Regions from separate parts of the Homo sapiens genome. Here regions 1 and 2 are each linked to region 3. The links come from fine-mapping of genetic effects on gene expression. A gene starts in region 3. Each other region holds a variant in brackets. All regions are shown on one strand. Distances are from middle to middle.

Evidence for each region.
Region 1: its variant is fine-mapped to the expression of URM1 in fibroblasts (GTEx, PIP 0.97).
Region 2: its variant is fine-mapped to the expression of URM1 in testis (GTEx, PIP 0.96).

What each region holds. Positions count from the first base shown.
Region 1 is chr9:128,397,686-128,400,185 of GRCh38, forward strand. No RefSeq gene overlaps it. Among named protein-coding and RNA genes, the nearest start is that of MIR219A2HG, 5.4 kb to the left of the region's middle. The variant G/A (reference allele first, on the strand shown) is at 957.
Region 2 is chr9:128,403,532-128,406,375 of GRCh38, forward strand. No RefSeq gene overlaps it. Among named protein-coding and RNA genes, the nearest start is that of MIR219A2HG, 11 kb to the left of the region's middle. RefSeq lists an enhancer at 1,226-2,026. The variant G/A (reference allele first, on the strand shown) is at 1,650.
Region 3 is chr9:128,370,060-128,372,559 of GRCh38, forward strand. URM1 (ubiquitin related modifier 1) reads left to right here and starts at 1,315. Exons shown (of 5, transcript NM_030914.4): 1 at 1,315-1,356. The coding sequence starts at 1,322. RefSeq lists enhancers at 1-486, 487-1,350, 1,414-1,513.

The DNA.
Region 1 (2,500 bases), 28 kb after region 3:
AACAGACACAAATACCCAGCCAACTCTAATGAAAGCAGAGCCCCGGGAAAGCACGGTAGCTGAAGAATTAGCAAGGTTCTGGGGATTATAGAAGACAGAGATTCATTCCAACAGGGAAGCTGTGGGAAGACTTCAGGAAGAGCCAGCATTGCCTTGGGCTTCCAGGACAAGTGATTCCAGGAGGCTGAATCTTAGTGACAGCCTCTGTGCCTATCCATCGTGCCTGTCCTGCCTCTCTAGAAATGGGTGGGTGTTAGGAGGATCCAAACACCCTCTGCATGTGCTTGCAGTTAAGTAATGTGTCATCATGAGCTTCCACCATCACCACCATACACCCCGGGTGTGCATGCGCACACACACACAGCACACACACACAACCAACTCTCAGGAAGATGGCAGAGTCAGCAGGATGCAGTGGCTCACACCTGTAATCCCAGCAGTTTGGGAGGCTGAGACGGGCGGATCACCTGAGGTCAGGAGTTTGAGACCAGCCTGGCCAACATGGTGAAACCCCGTTTCTACTAAAAATACTATAATTAGTCGAGCGTGGTGGCAGGTGCCTGTAATTCCAGCTACTCAGGAGGCTGAGGCAGAATTGTTTGAACCCAGGAGGCGGAGGTTGCAGTGAGCTGAGATCCCACCAGTGCACTCTGGCCTGGGTGACAGAGTGAGACCTTGTCTCAACAAAAAAATTAAAAAAGAAGACCAGGCGCTGTGGCTCACGCCTGTAATCCCAGCACTTTGGGAGGCCGAGATGGGTGGATCACAAGGTCAGGAGATCGAGACCATCCTGGCTAACACGGTGAAACCTCATCTCTACTAAAAATACAAAAAAATTAGCCGGGCGTGGTGGCGAGTGCCTGTAGTCCCAGCTACTCGGGAGGGTGAGACAGGAGAATGGCGTGAACCCGGGAGACGGAGCTTGCAGTGAGCCGAGGTCACGCCACTGCACTCCA[G/A]CCTGGGCAACAGAGCAAGACTCCGTCTCAAAAAAAAAAAAATTAAAAAAGAAGACGGCAGAGTTGTCCACACTGCCAGTTAAGCAAGCCCTTCCTTCCCACCAGGACTGGCTTTTTTTTTTTTTTTTTTTGAGACGGAGTCTCGGTCTGTCATCCAGGCTGGAGTGCAGTGGCGTGATATCGGCTCACTGCAACCTCCACTTCCCGGGTTCAAGCAATTCTCCTGCATCAGCCTCCCAAGTAGCTGGGACTACAGGCACGTGCCACCACACTCAGCTAAATTTTGTATTTTTAGTAGAGGTGGGTTGAGACCAGGATGGTCTCAATCTCTTGACCTCATGATCCACCCGCCTCAGCCTCCCAAAGTGCTGGGATTACAGGCGTGAGCCACCGCACCCGGCTTTTTTTTTTTTTTTTTGAAGTGGAGTCTCACTCTGTCACGCAGTCTGGAGTGCAGTGGCACAATCTCCATTCACTGCAACCCCTGCCTCCCAGATTCAAGCAATTCTCATGCCTCAGCCTCTCAAGTAGCTGGGACTATAGGTGTGTGCCACCATGCCCAGCTAATTTTTGTATTTTTAGTAGAGATGGGGTTTCACTGTGTTGGCCTCAAACTCCTGACCTCAAGTGATCCGCCCACCTCAGCCTCCCAAAGTGCTGGGATTACAGGCATGAGCCATCGCACCTGGCCTGGCCTGGCCTGGCATTTTACCAAGGATTTTTTTTTTTTTTTTTTTTTTTTTGGTTATGGAGTCCTGCTCTGTCACCCAGGCTGAAGTGCAGTGGCGCAATCTCGGCTCAGTGCAACCTCCACCTCCCAGGTTCAAGCAATTCTCCCTGCCTCAGCCTCCCACTTAGCTGGGACTACAGGTGCCCACCACCACGCCTGGCTAATTTTTGTATTTTTAGTAGAGTCAGGGTTTTGCCATGCTGGCCAGGCTGGTCTCGAACTCCTGACCTCAGGTGATCCTTCTCGGCCTCCCAAAGTACTGAGATTACAGGCGTGAGCCACCGCACCAGGCCTTTACCAAGGATTTGACCAAACATTGTGCTCAGCACAAAGGACATGCTCAGTAAACATCTGTTGAATGAATGATGAATGAATGAATGAATTGATGAATGCTTTATTGAAGTAATAATTAAATGAATGGTAGATGGAGACGGATGCATGAAAAAGCAGACTTTGGGACAATGGAGTGAAAGATGAAATTAATAAGGAATTGACAGTGGGTGCACGGATGTTTGCAGCCAATCAGCTGAGGTTCTAGGTGTGGCACTTGAGATATTGCTGTGGGTGAGGCTCATTGAAGGGGGCTGGGAGGGGCTTCTGTCATGCAGCAGCCTCAGTTCTGCACTTTAAGGCAAGTCCAGGACCCAGAGCATGCAGACAGATGCCCAGGGAACAGCTGTGGCGACAGGCTCCACCTCTGTGCCAGATCTTTCCATCCCTAGATTCCTGTCCCCAAGTGTTTCTGTCAATCCGGGTTTCACTGTGATTTGGCCTGGCAGCCTGGGATAGAGGAAAGAACCCTATTGCTATTCAG
Region 2 (2,844 bases), 34 kb after region 3:
GTAGCTGGGATTACAAGTGCCCACCACCACGCCCTGCTAATTTTTGTATTTTTCTAGTAGAGATGTAGTTTCACCATGTTGCCCAGGCTGATCTTGAACTCTTGACCTCAGGTGATCAGCCCACCTTGACCTCCCAAAGTGCTGGGATTACAGGTGTGAGCCACCACGCCCAGCCTGAGTATGGGCTTTCTTTTCAAAATAATGAAAATATAAAATGGCTTGTTGTGATGGTTGCACAATTCTTGAATATACTAAAAGCTGTTGAATGATACACTTTAAGTAGGCAAATTGCATGGCATGTGAATTACATCTCAACAATGCTGTTATGAAAAAAAAAGAGGCCGGGCACAGTGGCTCACACCTGTAATCCTAGCACTGGCCGAAGCGGCTCACACCTGTAATCCCAGCACTGGCCGAAGCGGGTGGATCATGAGGTCAGGAGATCGACACCATCCTGGCTAACACGGTGAAATCCCATCTCTACTAAAAATACAAACAATTAGCTGGGCATGGTGGTGGGCACCTGTAGTCCCAGCTACTCCGGAGGCTGAGGCAGGAGAATGGCGTGAACCCGGGAGGCGGAGGTTGCAATGAGCCAAGATCCCGCCACTCTGCCACTGCACTCCAGCCTGGGTGACAGAGCAAGACTCCATCTCAAAAAAAAAAAAAAAAAGATAAAAAGAGAGGGATGGGGCTCAGGAATCCCACCTCTGCCACTTACCTGCTTGGCACATGACTTCATACCTCCCAACCTCAGCTTCCTTAACCAATAAAATAGGAAAAATAAACATCTCCTGGGTCTTTTGTGAGGATTAAATGAGATAATACATATTATTATTCCCATTTTATCAAGGAGGAAACAGGCCCAGAGAAGGGAAGTGACTTGGGTGCAGATGGCACAGCTGGTGGGTGGCAGGTGAGAGACTCAGGCCTGGGTCTCATGGCACCACCCCATCTTTTAGCATTGTGTAGAGTGGACCAGTGTCTGCACACTCCACCCACCCCTTCACCAACACTCTCTTCCATCTCCCTCCTTCTCTTGGGCTCTGGGGCCCTGTCTCCCCACTGCTCACGCTCAGAACAAGTGGAGGTGGCTGAGTCCCCCCAGAGCACAGGACACCCTCTCCCCCAGCCCCCACCCTGCTCCCCTCCTGGGGCCATGATGCTGTCTTGCTTTTGCTTGTAATAAAGAAAATATCTCAGCTACCCTTCCATGGTTGCTTGGCAACCCCGAGGGGGGTTGGGTGGGGGGGACCAAGGGGAGGAGGGATGGGGGAGGATTCTGGAGCCAATCTGGAGACAAAGAGTAGGATTTGGGTGACATGGAGCCTGTTCTTAGTGCTAACCTGGCCTGGCTGGGGCGGCGGGTGGGGGCAGCGGGCTTCCTCCCACCCCAGTGTCTCACACCAATAAATATGGATTAGGGAAATGGGCTGAGTTTTTCCCACGGGCCTGAAAGGCCGCATCTGACCTTTCTACCCCCTTTATGTACCAATGTGACAGTCAGAGACAGCAAAGAGCAGGACCCCCTGAGATGCCTCCCCCATGGCCTTCTGACTTGGGGAAACTTTTCACCCTCCTCCTTCCCCTGGCCACAGACCAGGTCACAGCTCTGCCTGGGCCCTTGTTCCGGGGATGAGAAGGAGGCT[G/A]GTTTCCAGGTGGGCGCCAGGAGCTCCCATCCTCAGTGTCCACTCCGGGCCCTGCTGGCCGTGACCGGTGCAGAGCCAGGCTGTGAGGCCCTGGACTGGTTAGTGACGGCCCTGCCTGCCTCCTAGACAGTCCTCTGCTCTGTGGCTCCCCCATCCTGTCCCTGCCCCATCTCTGCCTGGGCCGCCTCCATCAGGAGCCCTATCGTCCGTGTCCCTTTGCGTCCCTCTCCTCAGATACTTCCCACCACCCTCTTCTCGACTTGGTTTCCCTCTTTCTCTCCTCCTGCCAGCCCCCCACGCCCCAGTCGTCCATGAAACTAGGAAGCCCTTGTGGCTGAGGTATCTCCTGCAGTGAAGAGGGCAGGAAGGGTTGTGGAGGGGGAGGTGGGGGCCGTGATCTCACTCCCTGGTGCCCTGACTTTCTGGTCGTTGGCCGGGGGTGGGGATCGGCTGCTCTGAATGGAGTCAGTGTAGAGGCAGGAAAAGCAAACACCTCCGTGTGGGCCCTGCTGGCAGTGGATGGGAGCGGTCGGGGGGCAGGGGCCTGGGCTCCTCTCAGCCTCCTTGATCAGACCTCTCCCCACTCCTGAGGCTCCCTGTCTTCCTGGACCTTTGGCCTACAGTGTCCAGAAGGAGAGTGGGGTGAAGGTTTAGGGGGAAGCCCTCTGGGAGACGTCTTTGCTCAAATCTTTCCCTGCTCCTCTGCCCAACCCCCAGCCAGTGCCCTTCCTGCCCAGCAGATGCCAGGAAAATCTGTGCCCGGGAAGGGCGGTCTGGCACCTGAGGGCCCCGCCTGACCAGTCCTTCTCAGCAGCAGGAGCTGGGTGGGAGTCACCTTATGCCAGAGACGCCCCAGCAGTGCCATCCACCTCCTGGGCTGAGGAGTACCCCCAAGAGGCTCTGCCCGGGTGAGTGCTCCTCTGGCCCCACAGCCAGGCAGTGAGGGAGGGAGAGGTTGTCCATGTCGGGGCTCCCCAAGACCCCCACAATCTCCGTGAGTCCTCATGGTTCTGTGGCCTTTTCTGTTGTGACTGTCTCACCCTCTGTCTGGGACTCGTGTGTCACTGATGGTTTGGTGAGGGGAGCTGAAGGGATGGTTAGAGAAGCTGGAGGAGAGGGCTGGGAATGTGAGGAGGTAGGAGGGGCTGGAGTCTAGGGTATAGGACTCCTGGATTCCCAGCCAGGTTTTTGTGTT
Region 3 (2,500 bases):
AGTAGCTGGGACTACAGGCGCACGCCACCACATCCAGCTAATTTTTGTATTTTTTTAGTAAAGACAGGGTTTTGCCATGTTGGCCAGGATGGTCTTGATCTCTTGACCTCGTGATCCGCCTGCCTCGGCCTCCCAAATTGCTGGGATGACAGGCGTGAGCCGCCGCGCCCGGCCTGCCCTGAGCCGCCGCGCCCGGCCTGCCCTGAGCTTTTGCAACAGGCTCCAGTGGTCTCCGTGTCTCTTTCCTTATTCCCCTCAAATCATTCTCCATATTGCAGCCAGAAATTATATTTTAAAACACAATTCTAAAATGTCACTGTCTCCCAAAACCCTTCAGTAGTCTCCCACTGCTCCTAGAGACTGAAATGTTTACCTGCTTACAAGGCAGGGGTTGGCCCCTGAGCACCTTTGCAGCTCCCTCTCTAGATGGATGAAAGTCAGGCTCCCTAACTTCCACCTTCCTCTCCATGTTCCAGCATGTTCTCACCCAGAGCCTCTGGGCCTTTTGTCCTCCTCACTGGAATGCTCCTAGAGGTTTCTCTCCCCTCACAGCCACCTAGTTTACTCAGGTTTTAGAGCCCAGCAAGTCCAGTCTACTCAGTTTTCTTTTTGAAGTTCCTATAACTTCAGTTCCTTTATTTAAGTTTGAGGTTGTACATGTCTTAGTATGCTTATTTGATTACAGTTAGTCTCCCCGCTAGACTGTGAGTGCCCTAAAGGCAGGAACCTTGCCCATCCCCTTTACCACTAGCACCGATCAAAATGCCTGGCACAGGGAGGCGCAATGAACAGCTGTTGAACGAGTGACTTCCAAATCGACAGCAAAGGGGGCGGCTGGATAGCGAGTCGCCCGCTCAGGAGAGATTCTGGGTCGGAAATAAAGATCTGGGAGTCATTTATAATTCCAACCAGACGAGTAGATGGGCTGGCCCAAGCGGTGTGTAGACTGAAGAGATTCTAACTCATGCAAGATAAGCAGCTACGTGGCTCACGGTCACGTCGCAAAAAACCTGGGGGCTCTCCTCCGCCTGCTTGTGGTCCCGTACAAGGCGCTTCCCACCCTGGGTCTCTGAGCCCAGTCGGTGAAAGACGGAAGGAGACCGATTCACAGCCCCAACAGCGCCGGTGATAGTCCCTCTGCCACCCCTTTCCCTCCGCTGCCCTCCCCTCCCCTCCCCTCCCCTCGATGACTTCCTCCAACAGCTGACGAAGCTGGATCCCTGGGCACCGCCTCTTCCGTCCGCGGCACCCGGAGACGCCCGGAAATTTGCGGGCGCGCCGGAAGTTGAGGGGAGTTTCCTGCGAGCTCGGCTTCCTCAACATGGCTGCGCCCTTGTCAGTGGAGGTGGAGTTCGGGTGAGTCACAGAGCTGGGGCGCCGTGGGGATGGATTGAAGTCGTCGGGCCCAGAATTCCTTTCCTTCTGCCGTGGGGCCTGACACGGCCGAATCACTGGGTGTCCCAGTGCCCGCTGTGAGCTACGCTACCCGCCTAGGAGAGTCTGAGAGGCCAGTCTCTCTTGGCAGTGAGGCCGTCTGTCCGGAAATAGAGGCGCACATTGGGAGGGAAATGCTCTCTGTGTACCACTCGGTGCCCTGTGCTCCGCCGGAGTCGGAGGTCGTGACTGTTAGCAGGCAGCCTCTCTCTCTTCTTTTCCATTCCTATCTCGGACCAATCCCATCTGTTTGGCATCTGAGCTCCTAGAACCTAGAAGGACCACCCTCCACCCGCTGATTTCATTCTTTGGGCAGCAGTTTCTTTTTACACTGTTATTAAGGTCTTGTTTCTCGTGGGATGTAGTGGCCAGGGCGGGACTTTTTTCTTTTTCTTTCCTAAGACTTGGGGATGGTAAACAGACCTGAGCCTCCTTCAGGACAGTCAGTAAACTTGCTGATTGCCTTCTGCAGAACTGGAGTCAGGTGGAGACACGGGGACAAATAAGAAATCACACTGAAGGGAACTAACAGGGACAGTATAGTATACACAAGATGAAAAATGCAGAGATTGGGACACACACCAGTTACTGAAGAAACACAGAGCAGGGAGGAAGTCTACCCAAGGCACTATTTGTGCTTCCTACAAACAGGTTTGTCATATGGTTTCAAAGCTGAGGGAAACTGCAGAGCTTAGAGAGAAGGCAAAGAAACAGGCCTTGAAAGATGGGTGGTGTACTTTACAGTATCACGTGGAAAAGAGGAAATAGGTAGGGATGTGTGTGTGTGTGTGTGGAATAGGTAGGTGTGTGTGTGTGCCTGTGTGTGTGTAGATAAGCCAAGGTCTATGTGACAGGAAAAGTCTGGGATGGGAATCTAAAACCTCTGCCCAGTGCCTTTCTTCTCATTGGATGCCTCCCATTTCTTTCATGTTTTCCCTTAATTGGGTAGTTCATTCACCAGCCATTTATTGAGTGCCTACCATGTGCCGGGCAGCAAGCCAGACACTGAGGATACAAAGATAAATAGAAGTCTGTCCGTGCCCTACAGCGTTCAGCATTTCTGCCC